2 separate regions of the Homo sapiens genome follow, and region 1 is linked to region 2. Evidence: fine-mapped expression QTL. A gene starts in region 2. The other region holds a variant in brackets. All regions are shown on one strand. Distances are between the middles of the regions. Region 1 overlaps NTAQ1 (N-terminal glutamine amidase 1). Region 2 holds the start of NTAQ1 (N-terminal glutamine amidase 1).

The links. PIP is the estimated chance that this variant, and not a neighbour inherited with it, causes the effect.
Region 1: its variant is fine-mapped to the expression of NTAQ1 in whole blood (INTERVAL, PIP above 0.99).

What each region holds. Positions count from the first base shown.
Region 1 is chr8:123,441,552-123,449,883 of GRCh38, forward strand. NTAQ1 (N-terminal glutamine amidase 1) reads left to right here. Exons shown (of 6, transcript NM_018024.3): 6 at 1-689. Among named protein-coding and RNA genes, the nearest start is that of NTAQ1, 29 kb to the left of the region's middle. The variant C/T (reference allele first, on the strand shown) is at 4,859.
Region 2 is chr8:123,412,252-123,420,583 of GRCh38, forward strand. It overlaps NTAQ1 (N-terminal glutamine amidase 1), which reads left to right and starts at 4,523. Exons shown (of 6, transcript NM_018024.3): 1 at 4,523-4,681. The coding sequence starts at 4,599. It also overlaps a transcript of ATAD2 not described here. RefSeq lists silencers at 1,984-2,184, 4,102-4,581, 4,692-4,891, 5,212-5,261 and an enhancer at 4,695-5,289.

The sequences.
Region 1 (8,332 bases), 29 kb after region 2:
TGAGTGAATACAAATATAAATGAACAACATAAAAACTTTTGTTTTGACATGTCAAATTGAAACTTGATAAAGTGCGTACTTGCTAAGATATTCCTGTGGCTCATGCGTTACAACACGAGGACTTAAGCCAGTAATCGTTTTTGTTCAGATAGAGGTGTGGAGGTAGAGCCAGCCCCTCATGTCTGTTTTGGATGTTTTGTGTCTCTCCAGCTACATTGTAAGTTCCTTGAGGGCAGGGCCATGGCCCATTGCTCTGTGAATCTCAAATGCCCATAAAAGGTGCCCATAAAATGTTTTCTTGAACATTTGAATGTGCTGTTGTCTGGAAAGGGGTAATATTGTGAGCTGAATCAGCAATAAGTATTAGTCTTTTTGGACTATGGTATTGTTAAAAAGACTGCAGCCCTCTCAGACTTGAGCGTTAATTGGCTTATTTATTTATGGCTTTAAATAAAATCGATTTAACGTTAGTTTTGTTTTGAAGATTTTTGTGTCACCCTTGATGATCTGAAATACCTAAATATGCCTCAATTGTAGATGAGAACCAGGGCTTTAAAAAATATTTATTACATGTGCCTTCTGGAAGACATCTTGGTTATTTGGCTTTAATCATATCATTCCAAATGAAAGATATTTGGCATTACATTGGCATATAGTACCAGCTCTCATGTTTTCATGATTCTACTTTAAAAATGAACAACTTCTTATAGCAAGGATGTCTGACCTTTTGTTCTTAGATGAGCTTTCTACTTATTAAGAAACTATCAGCTGGGCATGGTGGCTCATGCGTGTAATCTCAGCACTTTGGGAGTCCTAGGTGGGCGGATCATGAGGTCAGGAGTTTGAGACCAGCTTGGCCAACGTGGTGAAACCTTGTCTCTACTAAAAATATAAAAATTAGCTGGGTGTGGTGGCGGGCGCCTGTAATGCCAGCTACTTGGGAGGCTGAGGCAGAATTGCTTGAACCTGGGAGGTGGAAGTTGCAGTGAGCTGAGATCATGCTGCTGCACTCCAGCCTGGGTGACAGAGCAAGACTCCATCTCAGAAAAAAAAAAAAAAAGAAAAGAAACTGACATTTAATGGTAATCCTCCACCTTATGGAGGGTACAAATGTAACCATTTATTTATTCATTTAGAGACAGAGTCTTGCTCTGTCACCCAGGCTGGAGTGCAGCGGCACGATCTCGGCTCACTGTAACCTCCACTTCCCAGGTTCAAGTGATTCTCGTGCCTCAGCCTCCTGAGTAGCTGGGATTACAGGTGTGCGCCACCATGCCCAGCGAATTTTTGTATTTTAGTAGAGACGTGGTTTCACCACGTTGGCCAGGCTGGTCTTGAACTCCTGACCTCAGGTGATCTGCCCACTTTCGCCTCCCGAAGTACTGGGATTACAGGCATGAGCCACCGCGCCCGGCCCCCTTCCCTAGAAATTTCTGCATAAACTGCCCTTTAATCTGCATGTTATTTTTATTTACTTATTTATTTTGAGACAAAGTCTCACTCTGTCGCCCAGGCTGGAGTGCAGTGGCATGATCTCGGCTCACTGCAACCTCTGCCTCCCAGGTTCAAACGATTCTCATGCCTCAGCCTCCCGAGTAGCTGGGATTACAGGTGTGTACCACCATGCCCAGCTAATTTTTGTATTTTTAATAGAGACGGGGTTTTGCCATGCTAACTAGGCTGGTATCAAACTCCTGACCTCAGGTGATCTGCCTGGCTCCGCCTCCCAATGTGCTGGGATTACAGGCATGAGCCACCGCACCCGGCCAAATTTGCATGTTATTAAAAGTAGGTATAAATGTGGCTGCCAGACTGCCCGGAGCTGCTCCTGTCTGCCTACAGGGTAAACCTGCTCTGCAGGAGCAGTCACAGGGTTGTAACACTACCGCTTCAATAAAGCTGTTTTCTTTTACCTTCAGCTTGCCCTTGAATTCTTTCCTGGGCAAAGCCAAGAAGTCTCATGGGCTCAGCCCTACTTTGGGGCTTGCCTGCTCTGTATCAGATTGATCTGTGCTTGAAGCCAAGCCCACCTTTTTTGTTTTTGAGACTCTCTTGCTCTGTCACCGAGGCTGGAGAGCACTGGTGTGATCTCTGCTTACTGCAACCTCCACCTCCCAGGCTCAAGCGATCCTCCCACCTCAGCCTTCTGAGTAGCTGGGACTACAGGCGTGCCACAGTGCCCAGCTAATTTTTATATTTTTAGTAGAGATGGGGTTTTGCCACATTGCTCAGGCTGGTCTTGAACTCCGGGACTCAAGCAGTCTGCCCACCTCGGCCTCTGAAAGTGCTGAGATTACAGGTGTGAGCCACTGCGCCTGGCCTGCGGTTCCTGGTTCTATGAGCCAGTGGATTCCTTTTTCTCTTCAGCTTGTGCGAGCTGGATTTCTGTCATTTTTAACTGAAAGATAGGTTTTCTTACAAGATTTTTCTTCAGAGTTGTTTATCGGGCTTAGGAACTGTTATTTATGTCTCTCTGTGCTTAATTTTTCTATTTAAACTTTTTCTTTTTTTTTTTTGAACCCAAACTAAGACAATTTTTCTTTTGAGGTCAGATTTCTTTCTCTTAATATTCAACATGTGTGAGAAGATTTTCTGTATGGAAAGAAGATATTTCAAGAAAAGCAGGGGACTAAAGTAGAATTTTGTTTGTTTGCTTCTTTTTGTTTGAGATGCCGTCTTGCTCTGTTTCCCAGGCTAGAGTGCAGTGGCACAATCTTGGCTCACTGCAACTTCCACCTCCCAGATTTAAGTGACTCTCCTGCCTCCGCTTCCTGAGTTTCTGGGATTACAGGCATGCGCCGCTACACCTGGCTAATTTTTGTATTTTTAGTAGAGATGGGATTTTACCATGTTGGCCAGGCTAGTCTCGAACTCCTGACCTCAAGTAATCCACCCACTTTGGCCTCCCAAAATGCTGGGATTACAGGTATGAACCATAGTGCCTGGCTGACTAAAGCAAAAAATTTTCTTTTTGAGAGGGAGTCTCGCTCTATCGCCCAGGCTGGAGTGCAGTGGCATGATCTTGGCTCACTGCAAGCTCTGCCTCCCGGGTTCACGCCATTCTCCTGCCTCAGCCTCCTGAGTAGCTGGGACCACAGGTGCCCACCACTACGCCCAGCTAATTTCTTTTTATATTTTTAGTGGAGACGGGGTTTCACCGTGTTAGCCAGGATGGTCTCTATCTTCTGCCCTCGTGATCCACTTGCCTCGACCTCCCAAAGTGCTGGGATTACAGGCGTGAGCCACGGTGCCCAGCCTAAAGCAGAATTTGTAAACTGACTATGAAAGCAACAGAAACAGAGTATCTCTGAGAACCTGACACACCAAGGAGTTGGGAAGCAAATATGAAAATATAAAATGGTTCCCAGCTCAGTAGAACTGGCTATCCCTGATTGAAGATATTATTGGAGCTTTTAAGGAAATTATGTCTTTCAGAAGAGGAGTTGGTTAGCAATGGTAGTAAATGCAAACCTTTTTGTGTGTTTTTCTTGGTTTAATTTTTAATTAATTAAAAAATAGATGGTACCATGTACATTGTACCAATTCAAAATGTATAAAAGAGTATTTGGTGAAAAGTAAACTTCCCTCCTGCTTTGTCCTCCAATTTTCTGATGTTCCCACCCAGAAATAACCTCTTTTTCAGGTTATTTTGTATCCTTCTTTCCAGGAATTTTCTATGTAAACATATAGGTATGTATTATATATTAAATTTTGTTTCCCCACCCCCCCGACAAATGGTAGCATCCTAAACATATTGTTCTGTATTTTACTTTTTTCCCTTCACTAAACAAAGAAAAATACATTTTACTTTTTAAAGTTAATATATTTGGATGTTTTCTAGTCAGTACATATTGATTGGAAAATCAACAAGAATGAGAAAATATCTACATTATTTTTAAAGGCTACATTGTATTCTGCGATACATATGGTCCATAATTTAACAGTCCTTTATAAGTTGTTTTTTGCTTCTTGGTGTGCCAAAAAAAATGCTACAATAAATGTTTTTGTTTATGTGTCTTCATAAAAATTTCCAAGGTGAATTTTTAAAAATTTTTTAAGTTTTTTGTTTTTTGAGACAGAGTCGCACTCTGTTGCCCAGGTTGGAGTGCAGTGTTGTGATCTCAGCTCATTGTAGCCTCCGCCTCCCGGGTTGAAGTGATTCTCCTGCCTCAGCCTCCGCATTAGCTGGGATTACAGGCGTGCACCACCACACTTGGCTAATTTTTGTATTTTTAATAGAGACAGGGTTTCACCATGTTGGCCAGGCTGGTCTCGAACTCCTGGCCTCAAGAGATCCGCCTGCCTCAGCCTCCCAAAGTGCTGGGATTACAGGCGTGAGCCACCTCACCCACCCCCAAGATGAATTTTGAAACCATAGGCTGCTGGTTGTCCCACCAAATCCATTCTCTTTTCTTTCCTTTTCCTTTTTCCTTTTTCCTTTCCTTTCCTTTCTTTTTTTCCAGACAGAGTCTCACTCTGTCACCCAGACTGGAGTGCAATGGCACGATCTCAGCTCACTGCAACCTCCGCCTCCCAGGTTCAAGCGATTCTCGTGCCTCAGCCTCCTGAGTAGCTGGGATTACAGGTGCGCTACCACACCTGGCTAATTTTGTGTGTGTGTGTGTTTTTATTATAGTAGAGACAGAGGTTCACCATGTTGGCCAGGCTGGTCTCAAACTCTGGCCTCAAGTGATTCCCCCCACCTCAGCCTCCCAAAGTGCTGGGATTACAGGCATCAGCCACTGCAACTGGCCCATTCTCTTCTTTTTCTAGAGCAGGAGTTGGCAAATGTTTTCTGTAAATGGCCAAACAGTAAATGTTAGACTTTGCAGGCCATAAGGCCTCTGCCACAACTACT[C/T]AACTCTGCCTTTGTAGCCGAAAACAGCAGCCACAGACAATATGTAAATGAATAGGTGTGGCTGAGCTCCAATAAAACTTTGCAAAACCTGGGTCTCCTTTCTTGTCTTTGGAGCCCTCCTCCCTCTGGAGAGCTTTTTCCTTCTTTCTTCTCTCTTCTTTCTTGCCTTTTAAACACTCTGCTCCTTAAAACCACTCCAACTGTGTCTGTGTTGTTTTATCCAATTCGCGCAAGACGAGCCCTGGTGCTCCTCCACTCATCGGAGCCGTATCAGTGCCATCTTCAAAGCAGAGACCAAGTCCTCACCAGACAACATAATCTGCTCAGCCCTGATCTTGGACTTACAGCCTCCGCAACAGACTCTGCTCCAACTATGAACTTAGGAAGTTAAGGAAAAACATGGATTTCTTTTTCCAACTAGAAGCTGGACATCCTAAGTGATTGGTTGGAGGAGTATGTTTGGTTTTCTCTGTCTGGTTCCATGTTGAAAGTAAGAACAACAACAACATGGGGGAAGCCTGCAAGTTTTGACCACGTCCTGATCTCTCCATGCTGATTGCCGCCGAGCTGGGGGTCAGGGTTCTGTTATCATCTGTGCCCTGTTCATTGTCTGCTTGAATATTCTGTCTGTCTATCTATAGAGAGGAAGAACAATAACCTTCATTATCAGAAACCTCATTCTAAGTTTACTTTTCTGTCTAGGTGTCCTTGTACTTTTTAAATATATAAATATGCTTTTTCACTGAGTAGCAATAGAAGTAGTATTTTTGCTAGGCTTGAGTTGCTTACTATTAAAAAAAATTATACTTACATATTTATAATAAAACCTAATCTTAGGCTCAGATGCACATACAACTAAAGAGCAGTGCTTGTCTTTTGCTTAATGTTCATATTACAAGGTTAACTTTTATTTATAATTAATATATGAACGTGTTCTTTTTTAAAAAATACACAATGTGATGGATAAATCTAATGTCCTTTTTGATAATCACCCTGGTTTTAAGAATATAACTGTCTAGAGAAACTAACTAATAGAGCTCATTGTGTATTATCTAGAAGTCATTGTATGCCAGGCAATTTTCTGACAATCTGATGGGGTTGGCACTATTTTTAATCCCTATTTTACAGATGAGGAAACTGATGCAGAGAGAGGTTTTCATATAGCTCACCAAGTCACTAGCCAGTAAGTAGTAGAGCCAGGATTCAAATTAAGGAAAAAAAGCACCTGAGAAGCTTCCTGCTGCTTTCTGATCACCTCCTTACTCGCTAAGGGTAACCACCATCCTGCTTTCTAACTGCATACATTCATTGTGCCTCTTTCTGTATTTTATATAATTTCATATAAAAATATGTTTGTATATGGCAGAAAAAAATAACAAAAAACAAAAAACAACTCTGCAAAACCAAGAGCTGGTAGATTTGGCCCTTGGGCTGTAGTTTGCTGTCCCTTGTTCTACAGCAACAGAGCTGTGACTGGTGTGTGGCTGCTCTGCCATGGACTACATTTCCCATTCTCCTTTGCAGCCAGTGTGGCCATGTGACCAGCTGAATATAAGAGGAAGTGTGTGTGCCACTTACATGACTGACCTGTGAAACTCGTGCCCACTCCTTCACACCTTTGCCTACTTTCTTACCAGATGAAATGGTGATGACTGGAGTGACCTCGGAAGCTACTTATCAAAGGCAGAAGAGCCACCATCAGCCTGGATTCCTGATAACTCTATGGAGCCGAGTTGCATGCCTGCCTAAATAGTATATTGTGGAACTCTTTCATAGGAGACAAACTTATGTATTTTTTAAGTCACAGAATTCTTGGTGAGTTTTGATTTGGCCATTTAGTCCTCCCTAAATAATTCAGTGCCCATTCAAGCATGTAACGATATTTTTAGCTGGGTCAGAAATAAGAATTTGTGGTGTTCCAGGCCGGGTACGGTGGCTCACGCCTGTAATCCCAGCACTTTGGAAGGCCAAGGCGGGTGGATCACTTGAGGTCAGGAGTTCGAGACCAGCCTGGCCAACAGGGTGAAACCCCATCTCTCCCCAAAATACAAAAATTAGCCAGGTATGGTGGCGCATGCCTGTAATCCCAGTTACTCGGGAGGCTTGAGTATCACTTGAGATATTGCTTGAACCCGGGAGGTGGAGGTTGCAGTGAGCCAAGATTGCACCACTGCACTCCAGCCTGGGCGACAAGAGTGAGACTCCGTCGAAAAAGAATAAGAAGAATTTGTGGTGTAAGCCTCTGTGTCCTTGCGCAGACTGCCCCCTTAGTGTCCCACAGTTTTTGTGGAATTACTGCCCTTCCCAGAATGTTCACAAACCCTGAACACAGACGTCTATCCAGTCCTGTTGTTTTGCATGAGGTTCAGGAGCCTTGTGGGAAAGAAGCCAAATGGTCTGTGTTCTCATTTAGGGTTCAGACGTTTATAGGCTTGTCCCGTGGGCTAGAGGTCCTCAAAGATGTCTTTGCTAGAGGAGAGAAAAACATGAACAGGTCCCTGAGAGAAAATCAATGTAAGTGAAGATGACATCTGGCTGAGAGGACCAGACTAGATGATTATACATTAGAGTGTTCCTTGATGGCAGGTGCCATGAGAGATGTGCCACGGTGCACCCTTACCTGTACTCTCTTACTCTCTTGAAAGCCCTGTCTCCTGGGAAGGAAAGAAAGAACTGTGTCACTGGGGGCCCCATGTGGCTCTGTGGGAGCCTTGGAGGTAGCTGCTGATTTTCCGTAGAACAGTGGACAGCAGTGTTCTGACTGAGTCTGGTATTTTGGTGGTTGACAGCAGTACACACCATGACCAGTGGCTGGCTCAGTAGTGAAGCAGAAGCATGAGGAAGCCTGCAGGCTGTGGTTTGGATTCTCTTTGAGTCCCTTTTTCATCAGGATTTGAAAGAGAAAATGATTTACACAGGACTCTCAGACTGGTAGGGGCTTGTGTACATTCAGCATATAGCAATTAACAGCTTGATGATTTGCAGAAATTCTTCATGGAGGATGCTTATTTAAAAGAGCTGGAGGGCTGCGTGTGGTGGCTCATGCCTATAATCCCAGCACTTTGGGAGGCTGAAGTGGGCAGATCACTTGAGGCCAGGAGTTCAAGACCTCTACTGTTGCTGTATCACTGCCCTGGTGATTCAGCAGTGAGTCCTGCGCTCATGGATATTACATTCTTGTGGAGAAGACAGACAATGAACTTCTACAATGTGTGGAAGATTGGTTGCTATTTACTGAGTTGGGGAAGATTGTGGGTGGAGTAATTTTGGGGAGGAAGATCAGGAGTTTTACTGGGGGCATGTTAAATTTGAGGTGCCAGTTGGATGTCTAACAGGAGCTGTCAAATAGGAGTTGGTAGCCGGGTGTGGTAGGCGGAGGTTGTAGTGAGCCTGAGATCACATCACTGCACTCCAGCCTGGGCGACAGAGTGAGACTCTGGCTCGCTGCTTTCTCTCTCTCTCTCTCTCTCTCTC
Region 2 (8,332 bases):
ATTTGTATCTCATTTAAGTCACTAATATTTTTGGATTTCTTTGTTACAGCAATGTCACCTGTATTTTAATTAATAAAAATATCAATTCAACAAGGATTTATGCCAACTACAATGCTTACACCCTGCTCAGAGCTATGTGATAATAATCATAACTGCAAAATTATGTAGTTTTTTTAAGTTATTTTATTTATTTTTTAAGAGATGAGGGTCTCACTCTGTTGCCCAGGCTGGAGTGCAGTGGCGTAATCACAGTTCACTGCAGCCTCAAACTCCTGGGCTCAAGCAATTCTTTTGCTTCAGCCTCCTGGGTGCCTAGGACTACAGATACCACCATGCCTGGCTAATTAAAAAAAATTTTTTTTTTGTAGAGACAGGGTCTTGCTGTGTTGCTTAGGTTGGTCTCAAACTGACCTCAAGCGATCCTCCCGCCTTGGTCTCCCAAAGTTCTAGGATTACAGGGGTGAGCCACTACACCTGGCCTATGTAGTTGTTTATTACGTAGGGTACTGAGTACTGCAGAACTCTCAGCACAACTTGGTTCCAAATCCCTGCACTAACAGACTTGACCAAACTCTAGCATGGCTTCTAGCAGTATAAGGCTATGTCAGCCTTCTCCCCCAAACCCCCCATTAAAATGCCTGCTTAAGAAAGCTCAAAGCTCCCAGGAAAATTTACTATTTGTTGTTGCCAGTACCTGATGATAGGCCCCTGACCTCCTTTTCTTAGAGCATTTACTAAAAGGGCTTAGAATTGTAAATATGTATTACTTACAACTCAGAAGTCCTTCTCAAGGACTTAGAGAGCCATTCCTTTGAAATGTAATCATCAGGAAGGATAGGGCCTCTGACTCCCAGTCTCTGTGGGAGGATAGAATCCTAACTTAGATAACTGCCAGCTAGCAGACACGACTGGCCTAATGGTATTTACACTGACCAACCCTTTGTAATTTTCACTTCCCTGGCTCTAATGAGCGCCCCCCCCCCCCCAACTCCTCCCTGCTTCCTCATTCTTCTTTCCAAATGCCCAAATTACCTCTGCACAATTGGAATGGAGCTCAGCTCTTTCCCCTACTGTCAATAGTTGCTGAATAAAATCTGTTTTCATCGCTTTGACTGATGGTCAACGGCTATGTTTATTTTTGACAGTACCTATGTTCTGCCAGGCACTATGCTAAGTGTTTTGCAGAGATTAGTTTATTTAATTTTCACTGCAGCACCCATTAGATAAGCACTCTACTATTATTATCCTCATTTTGCAAAGAAACTGACGCTCAGAAATCCTAGTGTTACTTATCCAAGGTCACTCAGGGTAGTAAGTAGCCAAGATAAGATTTGAGTGTGTTTCTGACTACAGCACTATTTATACTATTCTACCTCTCAGGGCAAGACCCATGCCCTGGAAGAGCTCATGGCAGAGGTAGAGACAGATTGAGTTGCTGAGCATGCTACTGCTTTTCAAGACATATGAATAAAAGTTGTGACAAAACAGGAAAAAAAGCTCCAGGAAGATGGAAGCCAACAATAAACTCTTCCTGGGAAAAGCTGCAAATAAGGCATGTGAAAGAATGCATCAGACAGAGTGTACATACATCTTGTGCAAAGGCTTGGGGTATCAAAGGAAGAATAAGACACTCAGTGACAAGAGTATGGCGGCGGGGAGGGTGGCCGAGGCGGGCAGATCACTTGAGGTCAGGAATTTGAGACCAGCCTGGCCAACATGGTGAAACCTCACCTCCACAAGAAAATACACAATTTAGCTGGGGTGGTGGGGGCGGAGGTTGCAGTGAGTCAAGATTGCACCACAGCACTCCAGCCTGGGCGACAGAGTGAGACTCTTATCTCAAAAAAAAAAAAAAAAAAAAAAAAAAAAGTATAGGGTATGCGGGAAATAATGAAATCAGATTTTTTTAACAAAAAATCATAGTTGCTAACATTTATATTATATGCTACCAACTATTCTAAGTACTTTATATACATAAACTCAACTAATCCTCATAATGACCCTATGAGGTAGTAGCATTATCTTTAACTTCATTTTACAGATGAGGAAAGTGAGACACAGAAGAGTGAAGTAACTTTGCCCAAGGTGACCCAACTGGCAAGTTGTAGAACCTACCCAGCCTAGCTTCAAAGTCCTATAGTAAGTAGTTTGTGCCCAATCAGGATAAGAAACTACACAGTAGGTCAAGCAAGGGAAGTTAAATGTAAAGAACTATTAATTATGTTAGCTGCGCACGGTGGTGCGTGCCTGCAGTCTCAGCTACTCAGGAGGCTGAGGCTGGAGGATCACTTGAGCCCAGGAGTTTGAGGCTGTAGTGAGCTATGATTGCACCACTGCACTCCAGCCTGGGTGACAGAGGGAGACCCTGTCCCCCACCAAAAAATTATTATTAACTATGATAAAGGCATAACGATAACACATAAGGAAACTCTATTCAGTACCTTACCGTATAGAAGGTAGGGTTAGGGAGGACCCTGGTTTTTGTGTCAAGAGGCTGAAGAAAGGTTATTGCCAGGCTAAACCTGCAAGGTTAGGAAGGGACCATGTTCTGAGTCTGGGGCTGGGGCAGACTCCACAAGGATGTTCTCACCACTACACCTGTCCCACTCACTTTAAATGGAGCATTTAGACCATTTACATTCAATGTTAGGATTGACTTGTGAGGTACCATTCCATTCATCGTGCTTTGTTGCCTGTGTACCTTGTTTTTTTTTGTTGTTTTTTAAATTGTATTTTTGTTGTATAGGTCCTGTGTGATTTATGCTTTAACGAGGTTCTGTTTTGATGTGTTTCCAGGATTTGTTTCAAGATTTAGAACTCCTTTTAGCAGTTCCTGTAGTGGTGGCTTGGTAGTGGCAAATTCTCTCACCATTTGTCTGAAAAAGACTGTATCTTTCCTTAATATATGATGCTTAGTTTCGCTGGATACAAAATTATTGGCTGATAATTGTTTTGTTTGAGGAGGCTAAAGATAGGGCCCCAATCCCTTCTAGCTTATAGGGTTTCCCACTCACTTTAAAGGAGAAATGTTTACCAGAGTTGTTATATAGCATAGAGGCTATGTGGAAGTTTGTATTAGGAGCTGAGAGGCAATAAAATTGGTAATTGACACAGGAACTGTGCTCCAAGTCTTTAGGATTTATCAGCTTTGAGACTGAAGAGATTGGAGAATCCAACTGTGGATGGCTAAAATCAATGTAAACATCTCAGTTTTTATAATGGGAAGTACCCTGATTAGCTAGCTATGCTCATTGCAAATATAAACAATTCAGAAGACTGTAAAGTGTAAAGACCTTGAAACTGAAAGTCCCTGATATTAATATCATTCATTCACCAGAGATAAACACTATTTTTTTTTTTTGAGACGGAGTCTCACCCTGTTGCCCAGGCTGGAGTGCAATGGCACCATCTCGGCTCACTGCAACCTCCGCCTCCCGGGTTCAGGCGATTCTCTTGCCTCAGCCTCCCGAGTATCTGGGATTACAGGCGCGCGCCTCCACGCCCAACTAATTTTTGTATTTTTAGTAGAGACGGAGTTTCACCATGTTGGCCAGGCTCGTCTCGAACCCCTGACCTCGTGATCCACCCGCCTCGGTCTCCCAAAGTGCTGGGATTACAGGCGTGAGCCACCGCACCCGGCCCTAAACACTATTTTAACAATATGGTGTCTTTTCTTCCAGACTGCCAGTAATTGAACAAAATATATGATTAACACAAAAAGGATACCATATGGACTCTTTAAACTTTTTTTTTTCAAATTTACTGTATCAGGGAATTAATATATCTTTTCGAGCCAATAGCTACAGGCCTTCCAATTTAAAAGATTAAGTTACAATAGAGTGAGATTTGGGGTGCTATCCCTTTCGGAAAGCGTCCTCGATGCGGTCATATTGGAATTAACCTCCACTCCCCTCTTCTCTGGGCTCCCGCAGACTCCAGGCTGAGTGCAGAAGCGTGGATTTTCACACCCAAACCTCTGTTATTTCAGTGTCTCACCTGGCTTCTCCACAGCGCAGAAGCTCAGCCCCTGGTTGGAAGAGCCTCCCCGCGGAGATTCACAGCAAAGCGCCATTCAGGGCCCAACTCCAAGCCCAAACCTAGCTCCTCCCCAAGCCGCCGCCAGAGACCCCTCTTCTCCCAAAGCTCACCGGGGCCCCGCCCCTGACTCCGCCCACCAGAGCCCGGTCCTCCAGTCCCGCCCCATCCCGGGCCCCACCCACCAGCCGGGCTCCGCCTACCCGGAAGCGCGCTGTCCTCCTCGTCCCGGGCTCCGCCCACCGGGAGTTCGCGCCACTCACCCCACCCCGGACCCGCCCACTTCGCTTGGGCTCCACCCTCCCAGGAACTGGCGCCGCTTGCCCCGAGCTCCGCCTACTTCGTCCCGGGCTTCCCGCGCCGGGAACTCGTGCTGCTAGTCCCGCCCTGGCCCCGCCCACCGCGCTACTGGCCCCACCACCCGGAAACTGCCCCGGCCCTCTCCCCCCGGGCTCCGCCCACCCCACGCCGGGAACCCACGCGGGCCACTACAAGCCCGCCCTTTCCTACGTCTGGTCCAGTCGGTCTTCCTCCGGCCCGGGCCCTGGCCCAGCTAGCCGGCCATGGAAGGTAATGGCCCCGCTGCTGTCCACTACCAGCCGGCCAGCCCCCCGCGGGACGCCTGCGTCTACAGCAGCTGCTACTGGTGAGGGGGCGCGGGCGCAGCCTCTGGGTCTCCCAGGCTCCCGGGCGGCGAGTCGCAACCGGGCCCCGCCTCTTCCCGGCCCCTCCTCGGGGGCGCTCCCGGCCTCTACCGGCGGGTTCTACAGTTTTGCGGGAGGAGGGAGCGGGAATGGCAGCTCTCGTCTCTTGAGTAGAGCGTGGGCTATTGGATGGGGTTGGGAATTCGTCCGGAATCATAGGGTCGATAGTGCATTACCTGTGCCTGGCGCTTGTCGGTTGGATTTGCTCAGCAGATCTCTGCTTCGGGGCCAGGAAGGGTGGAGCTCTGAAAATCTTTGGGGGTTACTCTGCTGAAGCCTGTGGGGTTTCAGACTGAGGTGAAGGTCATTTTAATTTTGTAAGAGAATGAAGGCACGGAGAGTTTTTCATACAGCACTTGCTATATGCCACGCGTTGTTCTGGGTGGTTTAGGTAAACTAAATCACTGAGCATCACAATAACCGTAAGAGGTAGGTATTGTTATCCCCAGTTGAAAGATGAGAGCACTGAAGCACAGAGGGCTGCAAGTAATTTGCGCAGGGCCACGTAGCTTGTGAATGAAGGAGTGGGGATTTACAGTCAGGGTCTGGCCCCGGAATCCACGCAGTGCACCCCTGTCCTAGGCCACCTCTGCAGCTGAAGTACCGCCCTTGCCTTAGTCCTCATACCTACTCTTTCCTGAGTAATGGCTTCTTCCCCAGCTTCTAGTCCTTGTACAGGAAACCTCAGTGCTATCTAAACCTACTCCTCCCCCTTCTGCTGGTCACTAAACCAATGCCACCAAGAGCTTAACATTTGTTCGGCCCTGATTGCATGTCAGGCTCAGTGGCAGGTGCTTCCATCGATGTCCAGGAGGTACCTTCTTTTATTATCGTTATCCTCATTTTACTAATAAAAAGACTGAGCCACAGAGAGGCTGTTCTGTGCCCCCAAATCACACATCTAGCAAGTGGTGGTGCTGAAACTGGAACCTCTTCGTGATTCTGAAGTTCATGCATCTTAACTACTGCACTATTTTTCTGTCCTGCCTCTCTTCTAAATCCCGTTAGTTCTCCTCCCTAATGTCCAGTCATTGTTTTATTCATTCATTCAATAAATGTTTATTAGGCACTTGGAGTATGTGGCATACTTCTGGGCACTGGGGATATAGCAGTGAACAAAATCGACAAATTCCCTCATGGATCCCTTGGTTCTTTCATTTTGAGAGAAAAGCAGATAAGGCCCGGTGCGATGGCTCACGCCTGTAATTCCAGCACTTTGGGAGGCCGAGGTGGGCGGATCTCTTGAGGCCAGGAGTCTGAGACCAGCCTGGCCGACATGCAGAAACCCTGCCTCTACTAAAAATACAAAAATTAGCCAGGTGTGGTGGCGTGCACCTGTAATCCCAGCTACTCGGGAAGCTGAGGCAGGAAAATCGCTTGAACCTGGGAGGTGGAGGTTCCAGTGAGCTGATGCCACTGCCCCTTCCTGCCTGGGCAACAGAGCAAGACTCCATCTCAAAAAAAAAAAAAAAATAAAAAGCCAAAAAAACAAGTAAACCATGTTTGGGTGATGTTAAATACTATGAGAAAAATAAGATAAAGGATGGTGACTTATCTTCTATTAGGATATTTTGAGAAGACATTGTTGATAAGGTGATATTTGAAAAGAGATCTGAAAAAAGAGGGTGGGAGCTTTGCAACTATTGGAGGATGGTTGTTTAAGCAGGGAGAACAGCAGGTACAAAGGCTCTGAGAAGGAATGGTGCTGTGAGTGTGATAGGAACAGTGAGGAGGCTGGTACAACTGGAGTATTGGAGTTAGAGCAGTCTTGTAGAAGAATGGTAAGAGATGACCACTCTACCACAGAGTTTCTCCATCTTGGCTTGAGTGACATTTTGAGCATGATAATTCCTTGCTATGGAGGCTGTCCTGTGTATTGCAGGACGTGTAGCAGCATCCCTGGCTTCTACCCACTAGATACTGTTAGCACCCTAGCCCTAGTTATGACAACCAAAAATGTCTCCAGACATTGCTAAGTGTCCTGTAGGGGTTGGGGGGCAAAATCGCCTCTTGCTGAGAACCAGTGCTCTACCCTGTCTGAACACATCAGGTGGGGACACCACACTACTTTGGCTCCTGCAGCTTTGGGGGTTTTTTTTTTTTTTTTTTTTTTTTTTTTTTTTTTTGAGACAGAGTCTCAGTCTGTTGCCCAGGCTGGAGTGCAATGATGCCATCTTGGCTCACTGCAGCCTCCACCTCCCAGGCTCAAGCCATTCTTCTGCCTCAGCCTCCTGAGTAGCTGGGACTACAGGCACCCACCACCATGCCCAGCTAATTTTCGTATTTTTAGTAGAGACGGGGTTTCACCACATTGGCTGGGCTGGTCTTGAACTCCTGACCTCAGGTGATCCACCTGCCTCAGCCTCCCAAAATTCTGGGATTACAGGTGTGAGTCACCGTGCCCGGCCATCCTGCAGGTTTTTTAAGTTGAAATGAATGCCTCCTGTCTACTTCTGTTAGCTTCCGTCATGTTAGCTTCCAGATGTTACTTACGCTTCAAGACCCTGCTTAATGATAATAGTGGCAGCCAGTATTTGTTTGGGACTGTGTCGTCAGCAGAGCATTTCTGATTCTGACTTAATTGTTTTGTGTTTTTCAAACAATTGTGGAGTGCCTGCTTTGTGCCAGGGGTCCTCCCCATCTGCATGCATCTCTGACCTCAGCTCATCACTGGGAACCCCTGGAGTGTCCCAACCTTTCTGCTGCCAAGATGATCAGCTGACAGCTTGGGGCAAATCCACAGCCCTCCCTCCCTCCCTCCCTCCCTTCCTTCCTTCCTTTCTTCCCTCCCTCCCTCCCTCCTTCCTTCATTCCTTTCTTCCCTCCCTCCCTCTCTCCCTTTTTTGAGTCCCTTATGCTTTTGTTTAGAGTTTAAAGAACATTTCAGATATTATCCAATCACATATTTTGTTTGAGTTTTTTTCCCTTCCAACTTTTATTTTAGATTTGGGGTTACATGTGCAGGTTTGTTACATGGGTAAAGTGTATGTGTTGGGGGTTTGGTGTACAAATTATTTTGTCACCCAGATAGTGAGCATACTACCAGATAGATAGTTTTGATCCTCACCCTCCTGTCACCCTCTACCCTCAAGTAGGCCCCATGTCTACTGTTTCCTTTTTTGTGTCCATGTGTACTCAAGGTTTAGCTCCCACTTATACGCAAGAATATTCAGTGTTTGCTTTTCTGTCCCTGTGTTAATTCACTTGGGATATTGGCCTCCAGCTCCATCCATGTTGCTGCAAATGACATGATTTTTGTTCTTTGTCATTGCTGTGTAGTATTCCATGGTGGATGATATATACCACATTTTCTTGATCCAGTTCACCATTGATAGGTGCCTAGGTTGATTCTACATCTTTGCTATCATGAATAGTGCTGTGATGAACATATATGTGCATGTGTCTTAATAGTAGGATTTATATTCCTTTGGGTATATACACAGTAATGGGATTGCTAGGTCGCATCATAGTTCTGTTTCAAGTTCTTTGAAAAATCTCCAAACTGCTTTCCACAGTGGCTTAACTAATTTACATTCCCACCAGGAGTGTATAAGCATCCCCTTTTCTCCACCAACTTGCCAGCGTCTGTTATT